Linked DNA regions of Homo sapiens: all the other regions are linked to region 2. The links come from fine-mapping of genetic effects on gene expression. A gene starts in region 2. Each other region holds a variant in brackets. All regions are shown on one strand. Distances are between the middles of the regions.

The links. PIP is the estimated chance that this variant, and not a neighbour inherited with it, causes the effect.
Region 1: its variant is the best candidate, but not a certain one, in a credible set for the expression of DPY19L2 in whole blood (TOPMed, PIP 0.84).
Region 3: its variant is the best candidate, but not a certain one, in a credible set for the expression of DPY19L2 in whole blood (TOPMed, PIP 0.86).

Annotation. Positions count from the first base shown.
Region 1 is chr12:63,717,568-63,720,235 of GRCh38, forward strand. It overlaps the pseudogene LOC100418730. Among named protein-coding and RNA genes, the nearest start is that of DPY19L2, 50 kb to the left of the region's middle. The variant A/G (reference allele first, on the strand shown) is at 1,506.
Region 2 is chr12:63,667,010-63,669,677 of GRCh38, forward strand. DPY19L2 (dpy-19 like 2) reads right to left here and starts at 1,484. Exons shown (of 22, transcript NM_173812.5): 1 at 1,048-1,484. The coding sequence starts at 1,384. RefSeq lists enhancers at 1,381-1,440, 1,890-2,391, 2,392-2,668.
Region 3 is chr12:63,536,128-63,538,795 of GRCh38, forward strand. No RefSeq gene overlaps it. Among named protein-coding and RNA genes, the nearest start is that of DPY19L2, 130 kb to the right of the region's middle. The variant C/T (reference allele first, on the strand shown) is at 1,568.

The sequences.
Region 1 (2,668 bases), 51 kb after region 2:
CTCTAAAGCCCAGGCAATCGATAGAGTCTACAATTACAAATATCAACAAGATTTTAAAATCCTCCAGGACATGAGCTATGTCTCTTTGTAACGAACAACTATACTTAAAATACGTTCTACTTCTGAAGTACTTTATAGTTCATTAATATGCTTTCACAATAATTCATCAGCAAATAATGAGGATAAATCACCATGCCCATGCACTGCGCTAGATGTCGGATGACATGCACAGCTAATCAGAGCTGGAACTGGCTCTAAATGATGCTAAAGAAGGTGACACCACCTCCAACAGAGACATTAAGGGTAAATCAAACCCACATGAAAATTTCAAACTGAAACTGTGAGGTGGAGCAATAAAGGTAAGGCTGCCTTTAAATAGCACATTTATAAAATTGAAAAGTAAACAGGCTTGCCAATGGATAAAATTTTCTACAGACAACAACAGATAATATATCTGATAAAAAATTCATTTTGAAAGAACTTTTTACAGCCATCTCTCTAAGATATGAATCATATCAAGCTTTTTCTGAGTCTTTACAAATGAAAAGGGTAGAAGGTATTACCTATCTGTTCTAATGATTAAAGATGGACTTTTGACATATTTTATCTCTGAAAAGAATTTTGAAAATCACATTTCTTGTTCTTCTTTCAAAAGATAAAGACTATTGGCTCAGAATATGATTGAGAAGTTATCTTAAATTCTCCAGTGCTCTAATACCACAGAAAATACATACTCTCAAAACACGTGTTGCTCAATTGATGTGTCACCATATCTGATAATACTGCCATACTTTGAGCAAAGGAGTAACTTAAATTCAACATGAGTTTTCAGATGTCTTCGAATTTTCTCTCATTATGAGAATTATCTACTGCTAATATCATTTTAATCCAACTTTCATAATTCCTAGGAGTATCAGTGGAAATTTCTTTACATTTTGATATAATTTCAAACTTCAGGAAAGTTGCAAGAATAGTACAGGTGCTCTTATACACCCAGATTTACCAATTAGCTACAGCAATGATTTAATTTTAGTGCACTAATTAGAAAAAGAATTCAAAACAATTACTTTCTCTATTTCTATTTAATCTAATTCTAGGGAAAATAATTGCTTTTGCACGTGACAGCAAAAAAAAACTGAATGGATCTATTATCACTAAAATTGTATGGGAGCTCTGGGTTGATGCTACACATTCCTGAACAGCTTTTATGGGGTATTAATAATTAGCAGCACAGAGATTGTGGATTAAACTTCTTTGTGAGCCCACCATGTTCCTTGTAGCCCACTGTCACTAGACTCTGAATCTACTAGAGTGTCCACAATTAAGAACCCCACAAGTATTTGTTGAGCTTTACCTCAAGAACAAGCACAGTCAGAAATATGATCTCACCTTTTCACCAATTATGAACTAAGTGAAACCATGAATTTACAGGAAAAGCATTTCACTTTTTAAATTTTAAGATAAAATAATTTTTAAATAGCAAAATTTTAACATTCTAGGTAATC[A/G]TACGTTTTAAAAGGTCAGACATAGAGTTTATGCCACAATATTTAAATAAAGACCAGTAGCTATACAGAAATTCATTTTTAAGGTGTAGTTTTACATCTCTTTATGAAATTTGGGATAACTGAAAAAAAAAAAAACACTGAGAACTGATGAGAAAAAGAAGCTGAGTTACAGACAGTGATTTCAGGTGGACACCATTTCATTCATGTCCGAATAGAGGATGCCTGCATCTTGTAATGTTGTTGAACAAATCACGTTTATCAAAAGTAATCCTAAAAGAAGTCTCAAAAATAAATCAGCTACCAAACATTGTATGTACAGAAACCAGAGATATGGCTTCTTTATAACTCACAAATTCTTAAAAGCAGCAATGTTTCTCACTTCATCAAGAGAAAACACTAAGCAAGGTTAGTAGTATGTGCTTAAGAAATGCTACTGTTTAGTGTGGGTCTACATATATCCAAGTTACTAATTCAGTCCAAAACACAACCCTGCTTTTTCATGTATTTAAATAATATAGAACATAATGCAATTCCTAACCAAAATGTTCACTCTTTTGGCATCTCTATTATCTTTAAGTAAATGTGTGGAGGGCAGATTTTGACACTACCTGCTGTGCAAAAGAGAAGGGGACCTTTTGCAGTGGTTGTTCTGTATAATATCACTGGACTCTGAATCCAGCTAGGGTTCCCAGCCACAAGGTAAAATTGGCCCTCAGAGACCATTTCTCCAATTAGCAGGAAAATATCTGACCAAAGGCATTTAAAAATGAAACTTGACCTACACTTCAACTCTACAGCAATGGTCTGCCTGCTCAAAAACAATGCATGACCTTTCAATCTTAAATTATAAAATAGTTTGTTGAAAGTGTAATGTATTTAGCTTTTATCCAATAATGTAAAGAAATGCAATCATTCCCTTGCAAAAACCAGAGAAAGAAATAGCAAATAAAAGGTCCCACTTTCATTACTTATAAATGAAACTACAAGGCACAATAAATGAGGAAGTTTTTCACAAATTGTTTTGGAAACTCTGACTTGGATTTCAATAGACATAAAAATAGCAGTCATATCCAAAGCTTAAGATATATGAAAGTGGTCCTAAATGTGAATTTTTAAATCTTCCTCTCTTTTCTCCTCCCTCTTTGTTCTTTGTATGTGAAAAA
Region 2 (2,668 bases):
TATATTACTAACTGTCCTGGGCTTATCTTAAATACTTCTCGGAAGATTTACTTGTTTTATACCAGGATAGGCAAAGTATGGCCCATGGTGCATTTTTGGACTGTATGCAAGCACGGTTGCTATAATTTTTAAAAGGTTGAAAACTTTAAATGGTTGTAAAGATGCTCATTAACTGTTTATTAGGCTTCATTAATTTTAAAATATACAGAGACTATCCTGTTCAACTATATTTGTATCCTATTTCTAATTCTCCCAACAATTATATACACTGGCAAAAACTCTTCAGATGATATATAAGGAAAAGGTCAAATATACTACCAAATTCATCCAGCTTTCCAAAGATGCTCAAAATCTTTCTGTGTCTCTCACTCCCTCCCTTAACCCACATACCACATCTGAAAAAAAATGATATGGTGTAACGATGCCAGTATTCTAAATGCTTGAAGGGCTTATCACATGCCCTTTCCAAGCTGTGACAGAAGAATGTCCCCTGGACCACGGCATCCTATCAATCTCACCTCTGAAGGTGACCCAGCCTCATACTTCACTGAAACAAAGACCATTAGACACCAACACTCCCAACTTCTTTTATTTCCACTTTAACATTTCTCCATATAGTAATCCTCACTTTTCTACTCCCTGCCATCTCAGAAAAGGAATTCTCTCTCCTCTTTTCCACAGTTAGCTTCTCAAATTTGTACCTTTAATTCTACCCCTCCCAAATATTGCAAGACTTGCTCCACTAATTATTTCCTCTCTTGGAATCTTAATCTCATCATCTTCTCTTGATCCTTCCCCTCAGCCTTTAAAACTCCTAGACCTTAAAACACTCTCTGCGATCTGACAGCCCTTCAAACCAATATACTCCCTATCTCTCTCTCTCCCCTGGTTCAATGACAAGATCTTTGGCCAACTTCTTTCTACTCGGACCTTGCTATTATTTCCTACTAGGCACCCACAAACCCTTGCTTGTTAAACTGATCTCCTTCAAGACTCAAGAAAAGCGCCATGCGGCTCCCTCCTAGGGCTCTCCTGCCCTCTCCTCACCGATGCCGAGAGTGGTTCTGCTGGAGAACCGCCGCGCCTGCAGTTCCTGCACCTTTTCCCGGAGCTGCGCCAGGGAATTACGGACGAACTGGAAGGGGCCGAGAAGAAAGGTCTTGGCCACCACCTCTAGCTCCAAGCCTTTTCGCTCTTTCAGACTTTGGATCCTCCCCGGGGAGGACCTCCAGGAGCCCCTTGGCAGTTTCCCGCCGCCTAGGGCCGACTTTTCCATCTCCTCCTCTACCTCCGGCTCCCGGGCGAGGGAGGCCCCGCGCCGCCCCTTAGACTGGCTGCGGCCGGAAGATTGCAGCCGCTTTGAGCTTACTCCTTGTTTTCTCATAATCAAGGAGTATGGTGGAGCTGGGTCAATTTCAGGCACAGCCCAGCCGAGTCAGGCGAGGTCCAGAGAGACCTGACTCGCCTGGCAGCCTCAACGGACTTGTCCCCGCAGCCGTTGCGGACCTCCCGGTCGTCATGGCGACTGTGAAATGTGGGGTGGGGCGCATGCGTTGGAAGCCATTCGCGCGGGCAGTCCCTGAGTGTCCCCTCACGTGCTCCCCAGCGCGAGCAGCACCCCCGCCTCTGCGCTTCCCAGAGCGTGCAGCTTCCGGTGAGGGCAGCCCCACGCACAGCCCCCCACACCCTCCCCAGCGCCTGCAGCCTCCGGTGCGCGCAGGCCCCAAGCCCACATGCGCAGTCCTCACCTTGCGCGCAGCCCCATGTACAGCCCCGGACGGGCTCCCAGCCCCACTGGCGCAGAACCCATCACCGCTTGCCCTTCACGCGCTTCATTGGGAGTGCAGCCCCCACCCCGAGCGCGCAGCTCCACGCAGCCTCTCCACACTCTCCCCAGCGCCTGCAGCACCCCCAGTGCGCACAGCTCTGCCAGTCGCTTCCCCGGGCGCCGCCCCTGCACCACTTCGGCCCATAACCTTGCGGCGACTGTCTGAAGAACTTCCCGTGGTTTCATTCTTTTCTTCGGGTTTAGTCTTAGCTGTGACATTTTAACCAAAAGATTACACGTTAATTAACGAGGTATTAAAGGGAAAGATCTCAGCTGAAAGAAATGACTGTAGGAAGTGTGTCAGGGAAGCCAACGGAACCGCCGGCCCGCCGGCGGTGCGCCCGGCATTAGGAACGTCTCTACTCCCCTACGATCGCTGAGGTATCGGACAGTCAGTGCCCGTTGCCAACGCAGAGGGAACGGGCCGAGACTGCGGGCAACAAGTGGCAGAGCCGGCGTGAGTCCGGTGGGTCTGATCCCAGAGCCTCAGGTTGACGCCACTTCCTTGGCACGGGACAGCGTTTACTGAATCTTAGAGCAAAATGCTTTTCCAATAAGGTTCCTCAGAAGTCATCAGCCCTAGGAGCGGTGTGCTCAAGCGCTTTCAGCACCAGCCAGGACCAACTAAGAGGGGAGCGCTTAGCTCCCAGTCACCGCACAGCCCTACAAGAGGCCAAAGCGGCTGGCACAGATGCACTGGGGCCACTGACATTTTCCATGTCCTCTGTCACGGGCCACATGCTGGAGCCCACACCGCTTCACTTCCCATCTGTTTGATGATGGATCACATTGAACTCCCATACCCTAACTGACCAATCTAAAGCCTGGCTCATTGTGGCC
Region 3 (2,668 bases), 130 kb before region 2:
GTCACCCAGGCTGGAGTGCCATGGTGCAATCATAGCACACTACAGCCTCGACCTCCAGGGCTCAAACGTTCCTCTGCTTCAGCCTTCTATGTAGCTGGGACTATAGAGGTGCCCAACACCATGGCTGACTAAGTATTTTTTGTAGAGACAGGGTCTCATATGTTTTCTAGGCTAGTCTTGAACTCCTGCCCTCAAGCAATTCTCTTTGTCTCTGCTTCCCAAACATTGGGATTACAGGTGTGAGCCACTGGGCCCGGCCTCCAATTACATTTAGAATAAAGCTTATACTCTTTAGCTTGGCCTACTAACCCTTCTGCAATTTTACCCTATAGTCCTACCTTTCACTTCTCACTTGCCATGGATGCTAGATTTACTCTAGCCACATCTATTTTTGTAAATCCTTTCTCTGAAGAATATCCTCCTTGCTGCATTCTTTCTATCCATATTTTACTCTCTTTTAGGCCCCAAATCAAATCCACTGTCCTCCAAGATGTCTGCTGGCTGGGCCACCTCTGTCTTTGAAGGTCTCTCTATCTCTTTCAACCTCTATTAATATTGCTCTCTTTTTCTCTCTTTCTCTCTCATTATAAGCTGAATATTTATATCCTCCCAAAATTTGTGTGTTAAAATCCTACTGCTCAAGGCACTGGTATTAGGAGGTGATACCTTCAGGAGGTAATTAGGTCATAAGGGAAGAGCCCTCATGAATGGAATTAGTGCCCTTAGAAAATAGGCACAAGGTAACTCATTCTTCCTTCCCACCATGTGAGGGTACAGAGAGAAGGCACTGTCTATGAAAACAATTCTAAATCTGAGAGAAAAAAAAACACACAAGTAATTCTCCTCAGCATTATCTGTAACAGAAAAATTTAAATTTCTATAGAATAATATTACTGATGGTATAGCCACCTTTCCAATACTATGTATTCACTAAAAATATTGTTTAAAAAAGACTAAGCCATACAATGGAATACTACTAAGCCAAAAAAATGAAGTACTGATTTATACTACAGAGTGGTGAACCTTGAAAACACTGTGCTAACTAAAAGAAGCCAGACATAAAAGGCTACATATCATATGATTCCACTTAACATGAAATGTCCAGAATAGACAAATCTATATAGAGAGAAAATAGATTGGTGGTTTCCAGGAGTTGGAGAAAGAGGGAAATGGGTAGTTACTGCCAGCAGGTATGAAGTTTATTTGGGGGGCTGAAACTTCTGGAATTAGTGTTAATGGTTATACAACCTCAATATACTGAAAAACACTGAATTATATTCCTTTAAAGGGTGAATTTTATAGTATGTGAATGATATCTGAATACATTTTTTTAACTATGCCAATATGGAAGATGTATATGACATAACATGGAGGAGAAAAGTAAGGAACAAAATTATATAAAGAGTAGCAAAAATTTCTCAAGTATAAAAGAAGTTTTTTAAAAGAACAGAATGTACTGATACACTAATAGGAAAAACACTGATAGGAAAAAAACAGAAACACTGAAGGAAAAAAAAGTATTTTTTTCAGGCAGTTTATACAAAGTTAGGTGAAATATCTTTATTAA[C/T]GCACAACCATATTAATGCAAAGCTGTGTTTTGGTAGGAGTTCTGGGAACCACCCCGTAAGAGTCCCCGTGACTTAGTCCCCCGGAACAAATGCCAGTTTATACTTAGAATTTATTTCCCTGGGCATCACACACAAACACTCAGTTGATAAGCTGGCTGAAAACAACTTAATAATGTAGCTATTTTAACTTAGGCATCTATTCTATGAATTATAAGAACAAGATTGGCTTTCACTGTGTATTGTTAAAGAACTGGTGATGACTTGTGCCTGGGCAGACTAGTCCCCAAGTTGCTGGCTAGTCTGAATAAGAGTCAGGAAGGACAGTCCCTGACTGGCCCCATACCAGGGAATGCCTGGTGGCCACACTGCTGCTGACCCTGAGACAACACAGTGCACATCATGTCCACACCTCTACTGTCAGTCAATGCTTCTCCATCTCTGATGAAAGTGACTCCACCAAACCAACTAGGAAGTCCCAATTTCCTTCAGAGACCCACAGGCTGCCAAGAGGACCCAACCCTCCTCTTCCACACCAGCATGAGCTAAATTCTCCCTGGAGTAAAAAAAAACTGTAGCCTCCATCTCTCCTCCTTATTTATTTTTTGTGCAAAAAATGTTCATGGCGTCTTTATAAAAACTAAAACTGGAAACAACCCAAGTGTCCATGAACAGAACATCCATGCTCCATTCGTCCTGGAGAATAAACTGTGGTACATCTCTTCTCTTTAGCTAGCACTTCCATCTCCATTCTCCACTGGACCTCAAAAAAGGAAAGCTGAGGCACTAATGACTCCTAACCTTATTTGTACCTTGTGGGTTGGTATTTCTGAGGAAAGGCATACTCATGTAAGGAGAGAAAAAGAATCTGCTGCTAACTTCCATCTCTGTTACTAGAAAATGAATTCTTCATCAGAGTAATATGCATAAACTTGCCTAAGCCATACAAGTATTGATAAAACCTAAAACTAAGAGCCACATGTTTGGAGCTTGCTGTTTTATTTTAATCGATAAAGCTTCTTCATTTTAAAAGATGATTTCCATTAAGAGAGTCTCTCAGAAGCTTCCTGGATTTGTTATGAGTTGTAAGGGCCAATGAGAAA